Homo sapiens: one gene and its partners. The protein of the gene in region 1 purifies or fractionates together with the protein of each later gene. This does not show direct contact. Each region holds a gene or a part of one and is shown in the gene's direction. Other genes may lie near its edges.

The links.
Region 2: the proteins of VWA8 (region 1) and CRYBB3 purify together in Homo sapiens (co-immunoprecipitation; one large-scale study listed by IntAct). This does not show direct contact.
Region 3: the proteins of VWA8 (region 1) and DCAF4L1 purify together in Homo sapiens (co-immunoprecipitation; one large-scale study listed by IntAct). This does not show direct contact.
Region 4: the proteins of VWA8 (region 1) and FAM167A purify together in Homo sapiens (co-immunoprecipitation; one large-scale study listed by IntAct). This does not show direct contact.

Annotation. Positions count from the first base shown.
Region 1 is NC_000013.11:41,958,310-41,962,578, reverse strand, and holds the start of VWA8 (von Willebrand factor A domain-containing protein 8 isoform a precursor), read left to right. Parts: upstream 1-1,469; 5' UTR 1,470-1,563; coding exon 1,564-1,726; intron 1,727-4,269. UniProt on the Homo sapiens protein: Exhibits ATPase activity in vitro.
Region 2 is NC_000022.11:25,198,577-25,202,657, forward strand, and holds the start of CRYBB3 (beta-crystallin B3), read left to right. Parts: upstream 1-1,281; 5' UTR 1,282-1,333; exon of another isoform or gene 1,334-2,800; 5' UTR 2,801-2,820; coding exon 2,821-2,895; intron 2,896-4,081. UniProt on the Homo sapiens protein: Crystallins are the dominant structural components of the vertebrate eye lens.
Region 3 is NC_000004.12:41,980,591-41,984,555, forward strand, and holds the start of DCAF4L1 (DDB1- and CUL4-associated factor 4-like protein 1), read left to right. Parts: upstream 1-1,165; 5' UTR 1,166-1,202; coding exon 1,203-2,393; 3' UTR 2,394-3,965.
Region 4 is NC_000008.11:11,425,254-11,428,753, reverse strand, and holds part of FAM167A (protein FAM167A), read left to right. Parts: intron 1-3,500.

The DNA of each region.
Region 1 (4,269 bases):
TGCTTATATCAACCACTTTGCAAAATTGCCTTAGGTTGTTCTCCCATTCTTTCAGGTGTCTACTGAGTTCCAGCGAGATTAAATGGAGATATCTTGACCAAGGTATTCAATTCTTCTAGCCTCAGTTTCTTCATCTGTAAAACGGAGGATAATAATAGTACCTCAAAGCATTTTTATGTGAAATGGGATAATTCATTAAAATCTTGATACATACAATGTGCTCAAAGTAGGAAAAGCATTTTATAAGCTTACATCCTAAATTTATGTCTTAGGGTTGCTATGAGGATTAAATGAGAAGATACACATGAAACGAAGTCATAATATATTGTGTAACTACTTATTACCTTTATTTTCACTGTCTCCTCATCTAGGTTAGAAGCCTGGTTCAGCCTTCATTCCTCAAGTTCTTCCGCTGGATGCCCAAAGCCTTCCTTACCTAGCCTTGTTTGACTTTTACAGTCTCCACTCTAACACTCTCTTCTCAGCACTCATCACAGGGTCAGGCGCAGGGTAGGTGCTATGTATTTAGACAGTGGCAGCTCTAGAATTAGCAAGGTCTTTAGCTGAAAGTGAGGTCTTCTGCCTTCTTTTTGATGTTTGCTTGTATAACTTGTCTCAAATATTTTGCCTTAGTCAATTCACTGTGACATTTTGGGGATGCAGTCTAATTACATTAGGCTTAGTTTGCTTTGTGGTAGGACCATTTCCGATGTTGGAATGTACAAGAGGGAGGCAGCCTTAGCCAGTGTCCTACTTTTTCCTTTACTAAAGACATAAATCATCTTTATATAACTTTTGTATTACAGCATGACTAGAAAAGTGCTTGATCTGGATCCTTTCTGATATTTAAGCAATTTCCATCTATCACTAAGATGTGAATTTTTTCCTTAGAATTTAGGAAGCGGTAATAAAACACAGAAACAAACAACCACCACCAAAAGGACAAAGGGTAAAGCTTTCACGTACGGTTTGGAAACACTAGTGTGGTTACAATGAATCAAGACAGTTGTGAAAGTTCCCATCATCTTGTGCATGTTTTCTCCATTTCCGAAATCTGAAGCCGAATACAGGGAAAGCTCCCTATACTTACTGGGCCTTTAACTAAGAAACGAAGACTTGGGGCAAGCATCTGAAGAGTCACACCGACAAATGCTCCTAAAACCCTTGGCATTTACTGAACTCCTGAGATTCTGTGGGATCGCAGGGAAACGGCGGGTGAAGGCCTGGTGCATCCAGGTGAACAGACAGTCTCACGGACTGCGAGGCGCTTGCCAGAGCCCAGCGCCGCAGCTCGGAGCACCCCCGCGGTGCGGGCAGTCCCGGGACGGTGCCGGCTCTTTGGGCTGGAGCTCCGCAGGCTCTTTCCGCCCGTCTGGGCCATGCAGGGCCGGGTAGGGCCGGGCTGAGTCTACTGAGCCGGCCGCGCCGCGGGGGAAGGAGTTTCCGGCGGACTCGGCTAGGTGCCGCTTCCTGTCCCCTTCTCCGCGCTGCCTCACGGTGCCTGCACGGGACGCCGCTCGATCCCCGAGCCCCCTCGCCGTCCCCGACAGCCCCCCCGGCGCCATGCAATCCCGGCTTCTACTCCTCGGGGCACCCGGAGGCCACGGCGGCCCGGCCTCGCGGCGCATGCGGCTGCTCCTGCGGCAGGTGGTGCAGCGCAGGCCGGGTGGCGACAGGCAGCGGCCGGAGGTCAGACTGTTGCACGCCGGCTCGGGGGCCGACACAGGTAACTCGGGGTGCGCCCCTGTCCTCCCTGGTGCCCCTGCGCTCCGTGCCGGGTCCCCGCGCGCCCCCGCCCCTCCTCTCTGTTGCTTCGCTGCGCTTGGAAGGACCGTTTGCCGAGCGGGGAGCTGAAAGATTGAGGTTCTAGTCCCGACCTCGGCGCTAACTGCTGTGTAACGTGGGGGCAAGGCGCTCGCCCTCTCTGTGCCTGATTCTGCAACCCGAGGGGTCTGGACTAAGGTTTCTGATGACCTAGAAGAGTGATTTCTCCTTCCCCTGCCGCTGCCTTTACCCCCAGAATTCTGACTTAGGTTATAATACTCGTAGAGGTTAATGCCTCAGCCCTATGGAATTATTGAAAGCTGGATTTGACCTTGCTCTCTGAGCCTCAAGGGCCTGGAAGCCGGTCTGTGTCATGTTCTAGCCAGGGCTTGTGGCGGCTTAGAAGGGAACATTCTTGCCAAAGAACCCATAGTTCACGGTGTTTTAAATGCATCCCCGAGCCTTTCCAAGTTTTACAGGAGTTTTCCTTAAAGTTTCACGTAATTCTTAGAGCTGACAGTTACACCTTAATTTAGTTAAAACACTTGCCTCTACAAATGAGGTAATTGAAACCCAGAAGGGAAAAGTGATTCGCTGGAGAACACACAACTAATTACTATGCTAGAATCACATGCTTTGATTTCTAAGCTCAGTATTTTTTGGCTCTACTTGAGCTGGTTTTAGGAATTCTTTTTCTTGTGTGTTGGTGGAGTTAGAGTTACTGTGATGGTTAAGGAAAGGATATCTGTTGTTGCTACCCTTGAATGGTGAAGTGATTCCAGACAAGATTTTGTCAATGTCAGTGCTGCTTGGAATAACAGGTTTTCACTATGAAATTGTAGGTTTCGTTGTCCTCTTGCATTTTCCCCGCAACCCCCAGTTTTCCTTGCTAAGAAATGAGCATATGGGCCGGGCGCGGTGGCTCACGCCTGTAATCCCAGCACTTTGGGAGGCTGAGGCGGGCGGATCACGGGGTCAGGAGATCGAGACCATCCTGGCTAACACGGTGAAACCCCCGTGTCTACTAAAAAGAAAATACAGAAAAATTAGCCGGGCGTGGTGGCGGGCGCCAGTAATCCCAGCTACTCCGGAGGCTGAGGCAGAAGAATGGCGTGAACCCGGGAGGCGGAGCTTGGAGTGACCGGAGCCACTGCACTCCGGCCTGGGCGACAGAGCAAGACTCCATCTCAAAAAAAAAAAAAAAAAAAGCATATTTAGGTCCCACGTATTTCGTTTTATTCATTGAAGACATACACCACCCCCGTCCCCCACCATAGTGTTGCAATTTCAAATTTTACTTTTTGTTTTTTTTTTTTTTTTTGCTTTTTCTCAATTACTCTCACTTCTGGGCTGTTTATTCATTTGTTTTTTACATTTTTTGTGTGTTCTTTATTTGTTTTTTGCTCCTTTGCCCTAGAAGGCAGAGGTCAAAGGTGGAAGTATAGCATAAACTATAGGTTGGGTTTTGGAGTTAAACAATTTGGGTTGGAATCCACTTATCCACTATCTAACCATGGGTCGTTGAGGGTAGGTTACTTAACTTTGTGTCCTAGTTTTCTTAACTGTAAAAGGATAAGAAGAATATATCTATTATGGTTGTTGTGAGGATTTATTAATTAATATAATCTGTGGCACATATTAATGCTCAATAAAAGTTAGCTTTTTTATTCTTAGTATGTACAGTTTTAGCTATTTGAGAATTATTCTGTTTCCTTGCCTTTAGAAGACATGAAACCAAGTTTGTTTAGATTCAGGACTGTTCAGACTATCTGGGTAGGCAGATTTAGCCGAGTGAATTGACTTGAACTTTTTAAAAAACAATTGTTCTTTGTACATGGATAATACATGTTGATTGTAAAAACACATGTGGGTGTGAGTTTTTAAAGTCTGTATTATATACGTATTGGTAGATAAGTTGTAAATGTCCTCAAATTTTGTTATAGCCAGTAAATCAAAGTATAGGCTTTGCTTCAAATGTGAGAGTCATGGACATATTACAGAGAACATACTATCTTCTTTAAATCAGTCATTTACTCTGGCAGGATCAGACCAAAAAGAGGTATTTTTTGAGGGTGTGAGAACTGTAACTGAATGCAGCTGGGAACCCACCAGAGATCTGGACTTGAGTAAGAGCAGTTGTGAGCCAGGTAAATGGACAGCACACTTTTGGCTACTCTGAGGCCTGAGAGTAAGGCTATCAAGATGGAAGTGTCCCATTTTGAATCAGAGATCATACATGGACAAGTGTAAAACTACAAATAGCAATAGGCCATAATGGATTACATCTTATGTTGGGATGATGCTCTCAGCTGCATTCATACATGTGACCAGTAACTGATTATCTCCTCTCTCTGTAATTGACATTGCTTCCTAATAGTTTGAAAAAAGAACAACAAAGTTCATAAATAATATATTTAAGTTATATACTGCTGTTATTTCTCCTGGAGTATTTGTTTTGTTTATCTATATATTCGTTTGGTGCCTGCCAACACTTTGTACCTAGTA
Region 2 (4,081 bases), on another chromosome or scaffold:
CTACAGGCACCCGCCACCACACCTGGCTAATTTTTTGTGTTTTTAGTAGAGACAGGGTTTCACCGTGTTAGCCAGGATGGTCTCGAGCTCCTGACTTCGTGATCCGCCTGCCTCGGCCTCCCAGAGTGTTGGGATTACAGGCGTGAGCCACCGCGCCCGGCCTGTAACTGGGTTTTATGCTGACTTGAGGATTTTAGCCAAAAACAAATACCAACAACAACAAAAGAAAACCTTGTTAACTCACTCCTTTGCTCCAATATAATTTTATTCATAAAATAATCACTTATTAGATATTGATTACAGGCAAAATTATACTTTGTTAGACACTTAAAAAATTCCTGGAAGCTGGGTGCAGTGGCACGTGCCTGTAGTTCCGGTTATTCAGGACACTGAGGAGAAAGGATTGCTTGAGCCCAGGAGTTTGAGTCCAGCCTGGGCAATGTAGCAACAACCTATCTCTAAAAAATAAAATAAAAATACCTGGATCTACCTTTTTTCTTTGGTCATAAATAAGTTGACTGTGATGGTCACTTTTATTTCTATTGAGGCTAAGATCCCAGGTCCTGGAGCAGGCCAGCCCCTTCTCTCTGCTGTGTGATTCTGAGTAAATGGGTTCACCTCTCTGAACTCAGTTTCTCCATGTATAAAGTGGAATCAGAATTCCTCCCCTAAGGATGGCTGGATGAGAATTCCATACAATGCTTGTGAAGCTGGCACAATGCCTTGCGTGTAGTAGGTGTTCAAGAAATGGTAGCTATTATTCGTGCGTGTCTTCTACATGAAGAAAGTCAGTCTGTGAGTTCTGTGACGGCATCCTATGGAAACGGTTGGGTGGATTTGCGCCCAAGTTGGAGAGTATGGTTAGCGTGATCTGACTTAAAACTTAGGCCACATGGCACATGGAAACTGGAGAGTGTCTGGGGTCCCTCACTTTAAGAACTAGAATTTTTCCAAAGGTTGCGTGTGACTCAATAGGAAATGGTGACCCCAAGAAACCAAAGAAAGGGAGTTGGTGGTTGTGGGGAGACACGGGAGAGCTGCACACCGTGCCCCTTGCCTGGCGCTGCTGGGCTTCCCACAAAGCCAGTGAGGTTCATCTGTCCCCAGGAAGTCATCAGAGACGGTGGCTGAGGAGACAGGCACTGGGGGCCTCCGTGGACCCGCTATTGGAGTGAAGTGGCCTGGATGGAATTGGGTGGACAGGGTGCTGCCTCAGCAGGCTGGGATGTGCTGGGCTGTCAGAAAGTGCTCATAAATAGCATGCCCCTTGCGAAGACAGGCGAGTCTGCAGACGGCCGTGGCTCCTCTGTTCTTCCCGAGGCTACAGCAACAGGTTCATTCTGGGATGGGTTGGGGGTGGGGAGGCAAAAGCCACCCTGGCAGGCCCGGACCTTTTGTAGTTTCTGTGGGACGCGCATGGCTGACCGCCTGCAAAGAAAAACAGCGCCTCCCTTAAGGGTCAGGTCCCAGTGAGAGGACCCTGACAGCCCAGCTGGGGGTGGAACGAGGGACCCTTGTCTGCAGTGGCCAGGGTCCAAGCCCCTGGACATGTGCTTAGGGCAGGGGACCTTCCAAAACAGCTCCTCTGAGGGAGGGGAGTGGGCACACATGGTACCTGCCAAGTCCCCCGAGAGTCCCCTGTGAGCTGGACCAAGCCCTGTTTCCTGCTGAGGCTAGGAGAGACAGAACCGACAGCCCGCAGGCTGTGCATGGTTAGGCCCACATCCAGAGTATGTGGGCTGTGCAGCTGTGCATGCTGGGGTGGCCGTGCTGGGAGCCGTGGGTGGGTAACAGTTGGATGTGGGGTGTAGATGTAGGTGCCTTGTTTACCACTGTGGATGTCTGAAATGGGCAGGGATGTGTGTGTGTGAGGAGAGAGAGAGAGAGAGAGAAAGAAGCTGTCCTGTGAGCCCATGGGTGAAATATAACTGATAGTGACCATAGAAACTTTTGCGAGTGTGTGCACCTATGTGTGTGTGCTGACAAACAGAACAGTCCTGTGTGTGTCCATGGGTGCAACAATGATGAGAATCCTTCCATGTGACTGCGGCAGGGGCCTGTATTGCGTGTCACTGTCCCTGTAGCAATGAAGAACTGTCGGTGTCTGGGTCTTGAAGTGGCTGGTACACAGTCGTGTTCAATAAATGCTTAAGGAATGAGTAACCGAACGCAGGGAAACTGACCTGGAGCAGGTGTCCAACGACCTGGTCTTACAAGCCTTTTCTCTAGAGGTCTGTCTGTCCACCTCCCGACATATGGGGTCTCCTGTCCCTCCTGGTCACCCAGCCCAGAGCCTGGCACTGTGTAGGTGCTCATGGAATATTTGTTGAATAAAGTAACCAGTGAACAAAAGAGTTCCTGGAGTACGGAGGTGGGAGAGACCCCTGTAGAGGAAACTCCCTGAAGCCCACCCTTTAGCCAGGTTCTGGGGGTGGGACATCTGCAGAGAGCTCTGAGAAACCTGGGTTTCGGGGAGCATCTGGATCAGGGGAAAAGGGCACGGGCTTTGGAGCCAGGCCCGACCCAGGCCACTTCCTCACTGTGTGCTTGAGGAAGTGGCCTCACTTTGCTGAGCCTCAGAGTTCCCCTCTGTACAATGGGGCTCCTGATCCCACTGTCTCAGTCCACGTGGCCCATGGCAGGTGCTCAATGGATGTTTGCTGAATGACTGAATGTCGATCATAAGTTACAGCCACGCCCCATGGGCAGCAAGGCTCTGTAGCTCATCCTGGACTCCAGTCACATCAACACCTGGCTTCTCCCGGGTGGATCCAGTGAACCATTTTCTTTTGGTTTGAAGCCAGAGGTGTTCCTGGGGAGATGGCGGAACAGCACGGAGCACCCGAACAGGCTGCAGCTGGCAAGAGCCATGGAGACCTTGGGGGCAGCTACAAGGTACTGGGCAGGGAGGGGGTCAGAGGGCCCAGGCTACTCCTGGGCCTCAGGGTCATCTTCCCAGCCAAGCAGCACCTCTGCAGGAAGGAAGAGCCATCCTTCCAACCACCCAGGCCAGGACAAAACGCTCCGGGTGGGTCCTCTCACTGCCACCCTCCCGTTAGAAACTTGCTTCATGACTTTGCTGCATCTTCCCTCGTCTGCAAAACAGAAATGGTCACCCACATCCTGCCTGCACCAATGGATCAGAGAGGCCCGGGGGTTTCTGGAAACGGCTCTGAGCTCTGACTCTCCTGTCTGACCTCAGCCTGGTGTCTTGCCCACTCTGGGGAAAAGGGCACAGGGTTTGGAGGCTCTCTGGGCCTCAACAGCCCCATGTTTGAAATGAGGATGGTGCCCAGATATTGTGCCCAGAGTTGGTGTAAAGGCTGAAAGACATGAGTGAAGCCAGCTAGCAGAGGGAGGCACACTAGAAATCTGAGAGAAGGTTTGAATGTGTTGGCTCTGCCCTTTCCAAACCATCTCCGGGGTCTTTTTGGGAAACTATTCCAGACAGAGTCTAAGGATGGGTCGAATCCCAGTGCCTCCTCTTAACTTGCTGTGCAGCCCGAGGCAAGTATCTTACCCTTTCTGAGCTTCTTTGATCCCTTCTGTAAAATGACTAGAACAGATGTTCCCTGGGGATCTTCTACAAAGTCAGTTTGTGTTTCCAGGTGGGTGAGAGAGGCAAAACCTTGGTCTGCCTTTGCAGCCCTTCTCTTCCTAGGCTTGGGGCAGGCAGAGGTCTTCCCCGAGACTGCAAACAGGTGTTTTCATTTTTTTAAGGGGGAAATTTCCTATTAAGGAAAATACAGATTTCTGACCTCTCTTGAAAAAATTGGAACTGGGACCTCATTCCCTCATCGCCAGAAGCAGCTTCATTTCCCCACCGACCTCTCGGGTTATTTCAGTCCGCTGGACTCCCCACCTGGCTCCTGCTGGACATCAGAGTTGCAATCACTAGTTTAATTGGTCTCATTGAAGTTCCTGAAGGCGTTTCCCTCCATGACCATTAGAGGGCAGTGCAGGCCCACCTCAGTGCCAGCTCCAGGCTGGAGAGATGCAGAAAGCAGAGGGTACCTCCCTCTAATGCCCAAAGGAGGGGCAGAGGCTGGAGCTGGGAGCCTAGCAGAGGTGGGATGTTTAG
Region 3 (3,965 bases), on another chromosome or scaffold:
AGTCTTGCTCTGTTGCCCAGGCTAGAATGCAGTGGCGCGATCTCGGCTCACTGCAAGCTCCGCCTCCCGGGTTCACGCCATTCTCTTGCCTCAGCCTCCAGAGTAGCTGGGTCTACAGGCGCCCGCCACGATGCCCGGCTAATTTTTTTAATTGTTGGTAGAGACGGGGTTTCACCGTGTTAGCCGGGATGGTCTCAATCTCTTGACCTCGTGATCCGCCTGCCTGCGCCTCCCAAAGTGCTGGGATTACAGGCGTGAGCCACTGCGCCCGGCCTAATCTTTGTATTTTTTTAGAGACAAAGTTTCACCATGCCGCCCAGGCTGGTCTCTAACTGTATTTTAAAAATACAGGCGGCCGGGCGCAGTGGCTCACGCTTGTAATCCCGGAACTTTAGGAGGCTGAGGCGGGCCGATCATGAGGTCAGCAGATCGAGACCATCTGGCTAACACGGTGAAACCCTGTCTCTACTAAAAATACAAAAAAAATTAGCCAGGCGTGGTGGCGGGCGCCTGTAGTCCCAGCCACTTGGGAGGCTGAGGCAGGAGAATGGCGTGAACGTGGGAGGCAGAGCTTGCAGTGAACCGAGATCGCGCCACTGTACTCCAGCCTGGCCGACAGAGCGAGACTCCGTCTTAAAATAAAAAATAAAAAAATAAGAAATACAGGCAGGGCGCGTGGGCTCATGCTTGTAATCCCAGCACTTTGGGAGGCTGAGGCGGACAGGCTGCTTGAGCTCAAGAGTTCCAGACTAGCATCGGCAAAGCAGGGAGACCCCATCTTTACAAAAAAAGTAGCCTGGCATGGTGTTGTGAGCCCATAGTCCCAGCTAAGTAGGGCAGAGGTAGGAGAATCACTTGAGCCCAGGAGTTCCAGGCTGCAGTGAGCCGTGGTCGTGCCACTGGACTCCAGCCTGGGTGAAAGAGCAAGACCCTGTCTCAAAAAGAGAAAGGAAAAAATTTAACATCAAGAACTTCCTTTCATCAAGACACCACTGAGAGAATACGACAACCCACAGAGTAGGAAAAGAGATTTGTAATACACATCTGTAACAATGGACTTCCTCCTAGAATAGAGAGGATAAAAAGTAGCAACACTTCCGCTTGCACCCGGACGGAACTTCCTGTCACGGAAAAGAACATCCTGTCACGGAGAAGAACATCCTGCAGAATTTCCTGTCACGAGGAACATTCCGCAGGAGGAAATGGAGGCTGAAAGGCTGCGACTCCTCGAGGAAGAGGCCAAGCTGAAAAAGGTAGCCAGAATGGGATTTAATGCATCTTCCATGCTCCGAAAAAGCCAGCTAGGTTTCCTCAACGTCACCAGTTACTCCCGTTTAGCCAACGAGCTGCGTGTGAGCTGCATGGAGCGGAAAAAGGTCCAAATTCGGAGCTTGGATCCCTCCTCTTTGGCGAGCGACCGATTTAACTTCATTCTGGCGAGTACCAACAGCGACCAGCTCTTCGTAGTGAACCAGGTCGAAGTCGAAGGCTCCAAGTACGGCATCATCAGCCTGCGAACTCTGAAGATCCCTTCGTTCCACGTGTACGTGCTCAGAAACCTCTACGTCCCCAACCGGAAGGTGAAGTCCCTGTGCTGGGCCTCGCTGAACCAGTTGGACTCTCACGTTCTGCTGTGCTTCGAGGGAATCACAGATGCTCCAAGCTGTGCAGTGCTGCTCCCAGCGTCGCGGTTCTTAAGTGTTCACACAAGAGTTAACCAGCCTGGCATGCTCTGCAGTTTCCAGATCCCAGAGGCCTGGTCCTGTGCGTGGTCCCTCAACACCCGGGCATATCACTGCTTTAGTGCAGGCTTGTCTCAGCAGGTCCTGTTGACCAGCGTGGCGACGGGACACCAGCAGTCATTTGATACCAGCAGTGATGTCTTGGCCCAGCAGTTTGCTAGTACGGCTCCTTTGCTGTTTAATGGCTGTCGCTCCGGGGAGATCTTTGCCATTGATCTGCGTTGTAGAAATCGAGGCAAGGGGTGGAGGGCCACTCGCCTGTTCCATGACTCAGCAGTGACCTCTGTGCAAATCCTCCAAGAAGAGCAATGCCTGATGGCATCAGACATGACTGGAAAGATCAAGCTGTGGGATCTGAGGGCCACTAAATGTGTAAGGCAGTACGAAGGTCACGTGAATGAGTCCGCCTATCTGCCCCTGCATGTGCACGAGGAAGAGGGAATCGTGGTGGCAGTGGGCCAGGACTGCTACACGAGAATCTGGAGCCTCCATGATGCCCACCTGCTCAGAACCATCCCTTCCCCGTACTCTGCCTCCGAGGACGACATTCCCAGCGTGGCCTTCGCTTCTCGGCTCGGGGGCATCCGGGGAGCAGCACCAGGGCTGCTCATGGCTGTCCGGCAGGACCTTTATTGTTTCCCCTTCAGCTAATTCTGCAGGTGGCAGCGCGGCCGAATGTGGATTTGACTTAAGGAAGTTAAGAGTATCTTATTACCGTTTCTGTGAGAGCATTTTAAGAGACGTGTTGTATATAGATCGCATCCATCCGGCTGCCAGGGGTAAGGTGTTAAGAGTTTTATGTGGAGACGTTCTTGTAAAGTTATTTCAGTTAAACTGTGGACTTAACTTGAAAGTCCTTTTCATAAAAGGTACCTGTTTCCTCTTGTTGAATGCCTTAGAACAGTTAACCACCTCCCCAACCCTTTTTTTTTTTAAATAATTAAGACTTTTCTAAGGACTGAAGATTGGCAAAAACTAAAATAAATTAAAGCAGCTTCTTTCACTAGTAGCCCTTTAGAGAAGCATAATGATGGTACTGGTAAGACTGTTTGACTAATCATACAGGGTCCCAGGCATCTGCGCTTGAGGAAGCCAGTGGGAGTGGAGACAAGGGAGAGGTAATTTCTCAGAGTCTCTACAGAAATATTTAAGGCTGGAGTTTGGAATCATTAAATTTGGCCTTCTCAAACTCAATAGCAGATCTCTTAAGGTTCTCCTTTTATTGTTATCATCCATAGGCATTGGAAGGAAAGATGGATCTTTTTAAATACTAGAAGTTTTAAACAGTCCTTGATGTGCTTTTGTTGAGGTACCTTTCAGAATGTAAGGTACAGCAGCTCCGGTTTCTATTATGGTGACTTGAAGTTCAGATTCAAGGAATTGGCTTTGACTTTTTGTAATCTAGGAGCAGCAGTTTGTGAGAGATTTATTAAAAATGTTAAAGAGCCTGTTTTTCTACTAAGCAAGGAAGAAAAAAAACGTGTAATAAGGTTAGTTGCTACTTCTTAATAGCCAAAGCCTGGAAATGATCTGAATTTCGAAAATGCTAAAATTCGTGATATAATCATACAATCGGATACTGCATAATAATAGAAAATAAGGCACACTTGCTATGTGAAACAGTATGGACCAATCTCAACATGTTGACTGAAATTAGGTAGAAATGAGTACAAACTGTATGATTCAATTCTAAAGTTCAAAAGCAGTAAAAACTTGTCTATGGTGATTAAAGGTAGAGTAGTACGTACCTCTGTAGAAAGAAAGGATTTTTTTTTCTTTTTCTTTTTAGGATGTTTGAGAAGTGACATGGGGAAGCTTTAGGAATGCTGAGTTTTCTTTATCTTGACACTTGATACATACGTAATTCATATATCTATATGCTTCACGTTTTTATAGTTTACTGTATATATGTTATTCCTCAAAAAATAAAAATAAGCAATTAGGACACTATTGTAGTTAGGCAAGGGACAATGATGCCTTGGACCTGCATGTGTGAGAAGTAGAAATGATCAGAAATGATTGCATTGGAAGATCATTCGAAGGTAGTATTATTGATAAGGCTTGCTGATGAGAGTAAACTAGAAAGTGAAAGAAAAAAGGATGGCAGCTTTTTTTTTTTTTTTTTTGAGACGGAGTCTCCTTCTGTCGCCCAGGCTGGAGTGCAGTGGCGCGATCTCGGCTCACTGCAAGCTCTGAGGATGGCAGCTTTTTTGTTAACTTTAG
Region 4 (3,500 bases), on another chromosome or scaffold:
GCACAGCCAGGGCTCCCGCATCACGGGGACAAACCCTGTTCTTTGGGGCAGGAGATGAATTTGTTGATTTGTGTGCAGGGATCCCAACACACTATGTATTGTGAGCATCTAAATGTGAGAACCCATAGTGCATCCTAGCGAGATGCTCACGCTGTGAGATGCCCTCAGAACCAAAGCCCACTGAGGAAGTTGCAATTCCCAGCCCCCTCCTCATGTTCTCTCAGAGCGCAAGCAGGGAGACCGGCCGGAATCACCATCCCTGTTGAAGCTGCAGCTTTCTTTCTCTTTTCACCCTTACGCAGAATTGAATGCATGTGCACAGCATGGGCGTGCGAGGCAACGCCATCCAGGCGGCCTTTGTCCAGTCCATGGAAACTGACACAGGCCTTACTGTCAGCCCTCTTTCTAGCTGCCTCTGATGGGTCTTAAAGAGTAAATTGTTCTCTGACCTTTGACCAGATCTGTCAGCCACAGAAAAACAGCCCCTTCCTTCCTGCTACCCCACAGAGATGTGTCCGCCACAGCCTGCGTCTCACAGATAGTCTTAGACACCTGGCCACACCCCAAATTCCCCGACTTCAAAGGATCTTTTCACACCAAAGATGCAATTCCTGGGGCCAAAGCTCAAATCTTAAACCATAGGGTTCCTAGTTTTTCAAAAAGATCTATTGTCAAATTACAGAACACTCCAAAGAGAAGTGACAGATGACTGTACTAAGGCAATGGGTGTTCGCAGACAATATCTTTCAGGCAGGTTTGACCCCCATCTCCTCAGAAGGGTTTAGGTAGCACCTAGCTCCGTTCCAGGCTCAGTGAGGGACACCATTACAAAACAAATGACCAGCCACCCTATCATCATTAATTTGGTGCTATTCTAGGTCAATAGAATTTAATTAGCAATAAATTTGAGTTTCTTCAATGCTTGAGGCCCAAGGATTGAAAAGTAAACTAATGAATGTGGCTATGAACTTTAATCCCAATTTTGCCATTAGATACCTTGCTGACTCCCAAGCAAGACTTTCTATCTTGATTTTTCTTATATATGAAATCAGGAGAAAAGAGATCTGTACAAGTGCATAAAAAACGAGAGAGGAAAAAAAGAACATTGAGATGCTCGCTGGCAAGGTCACTTAATTTTTCTACCCTGCAATGTGCTCTATTATAAACCTAACAGGGAGAAAGTGAGAACACTGCCTTCATTTGCATAACTACAGGGCATCTCAGGGCTCATTTTTCTAATCAGTTTGGCTCCAGGCACCAGGTAAATGGCACAGCCGAGCATGTCGCAGAAATACTAAATAACCACTTACAAGTGGAGACAGAGGAAATAGTGAGAAGGATTCAGATCTCGAGTCAAGTAGGAGCAGCTGGCAACCTGTCCCAGTGACAAAGTGCTGCTTACAGAAGGCGCTCTGCACTAAGCCAGTCCCTATGTACCATGTCACAACTGAGAAACCAGCCCTCTGAGCTCCAGCTAGCATGCTGGCTGGTAAAATATGGAGCCAGACTGTCCTGCTGGTACCTCAGGAGTGGCTGTGAGGCCCATCAAGGTTAAACATGAGCAGAAAATACATCTCAGGACTCCACAATCACTAAGCCAAAGGGAAAAGTCAAGCTGGGAACTGCATCAGGCAAAGCTGCCTCCCATTTTATTTCTAGATAAGATAGCTGCAAAGACAAAACCTACATACCTCCCTCACAATTGGCCCACAAAGAACTTCCGTGTTGGGCCCCCAGACCTGTACCCTAAAACAGTTCTGTTGAATTTCACCCTGGCAATGTAAATTGACATCTGATCTTCTCAGGTGCGGGACAAAGGACAAAACTCAAAGTCATCCCTCTGCTCGCCTGAGACGAATGCATACCTGATTGCTTCACGTGCCTTGTGTTTATGTTATCTTCTATAAAAATGCAGATTCAGTGAGCCAGACTAAGACACAAGTGACTTTTCCTCTACCCTAAACAAACATGTAAATTGTGTATTCGGTTGATCAAAGACTGATCAACCAAAGGCTGATCAAAGACCCAAAAGAATGCAATCGTTTGTCTCTTATCTACCTACACCTTTAAAAAATTTCTTCCTCTTCCCCCAGTATCCACTCCTTCCCCTTTAAATATTAAGGCCCTCAAAATCATCTTTGAGGAAAGGCATAGACCTGCCTCCCAGGTGTGCATCCTTAACGTCGGCAAAATAAACTTTCTAAATTGTTGACACCTGTCTCAGACACTTTTGGTTTACAGTGGGTTTGGGAAACTGGGAGTGTGAAGCCAGGTGAGAAATAATTATCACATCTCTTTGTTAACAGAAGAAAACAAACTCTGTAAAATACTTAAAGAGGTTTATTCTGAGCCAGTGTAAGTGACCATGGGCCAGGGAACAGTCTCATGAGGTCCTGAGAAAGCTCGCCCTAGGTGGTCCAGTTACTGTTTGGTTTTACACATTTCAGAGAGACAGGAGTTACAAGCAAAGACATAACTCAATACACAGAAGGTATACCTTGGTTCAGCCTAAACAGGTGGGATATCTTGAAGGGGCTTGGAGGGTGGGGGTGCTTACAGGTCTTAGGTAGATTCAAAGATATTTTTATTGCCAGTTGATTGAAAGAGTTAAGTTTTGCCTAAAGACTTGAAGTCAGTAGAAAGAAATGCTTAAGACAAAGGACAGTTGTGGAGGCCAAGGTTCTTGTTATGTAGATGAAGCCTCCAGGTAGAAGCCTTTAGAGAAAATAGATGGTAAATATCTCTTTTCAGACCTTAAATTTGCCAGACTCTCATTTAATCTCTCCTAGATCTTGGAAAGGCCTAGAAAGGGAAGGCTTGATTGCATTAATGGAAATGCTCTACAGATGTAAGTATCTCCCACAAGAGATGGTTTTGCAGGGCCATTTCAAAATATGTCAAAGAAATATACTTCAGGGTAAAATATTTTTATTTTCTTCAGGGTTTGCTACCTGTTATGTGACGCTATACCAGAGGCAGGAATTTGCTACCTTACTGCCACAAAGAGTCTGTTTTGTCAGTCTTATATCTCTATTTCAATGTTAATGCCGATCTGCTGTGCCTAAACTCCAACAGCAAGGGGGGGTATAACAAAGCATGTCTGAACTCCATTCCCATCACGGCTGGGAATTCAGTTTTCAGGCTTCTCTGGGGTCCTCTTGATGAAGAGCGGGCTTGTTCAGTCAGTTGGGGGGCTTAGGATTTTACCTTGTGTTTACACATCAATAGGAAACATCAAGCCACTAAAAATATTAGGAACCTTCTACAAGGTCACTAAGCACTCTGCTAGCTCCATACACCACACTGCAGCTCGTCCTTGAGCAGCAGAACTTCATTGTCAGTCATTTTGGTTCTGGAGTCCAGCTGTCCGGCTTCCTCATCCCAGCTCGGCTGTGGATGAGCTTTGTGAGCCGACACAGCTAATTCCCTGGCTGTGCCTCTGTGTCCTCCTCTATAAGCTGTGGGTGATGATGGTGACATCACTTCACAGGTTGTAGTGA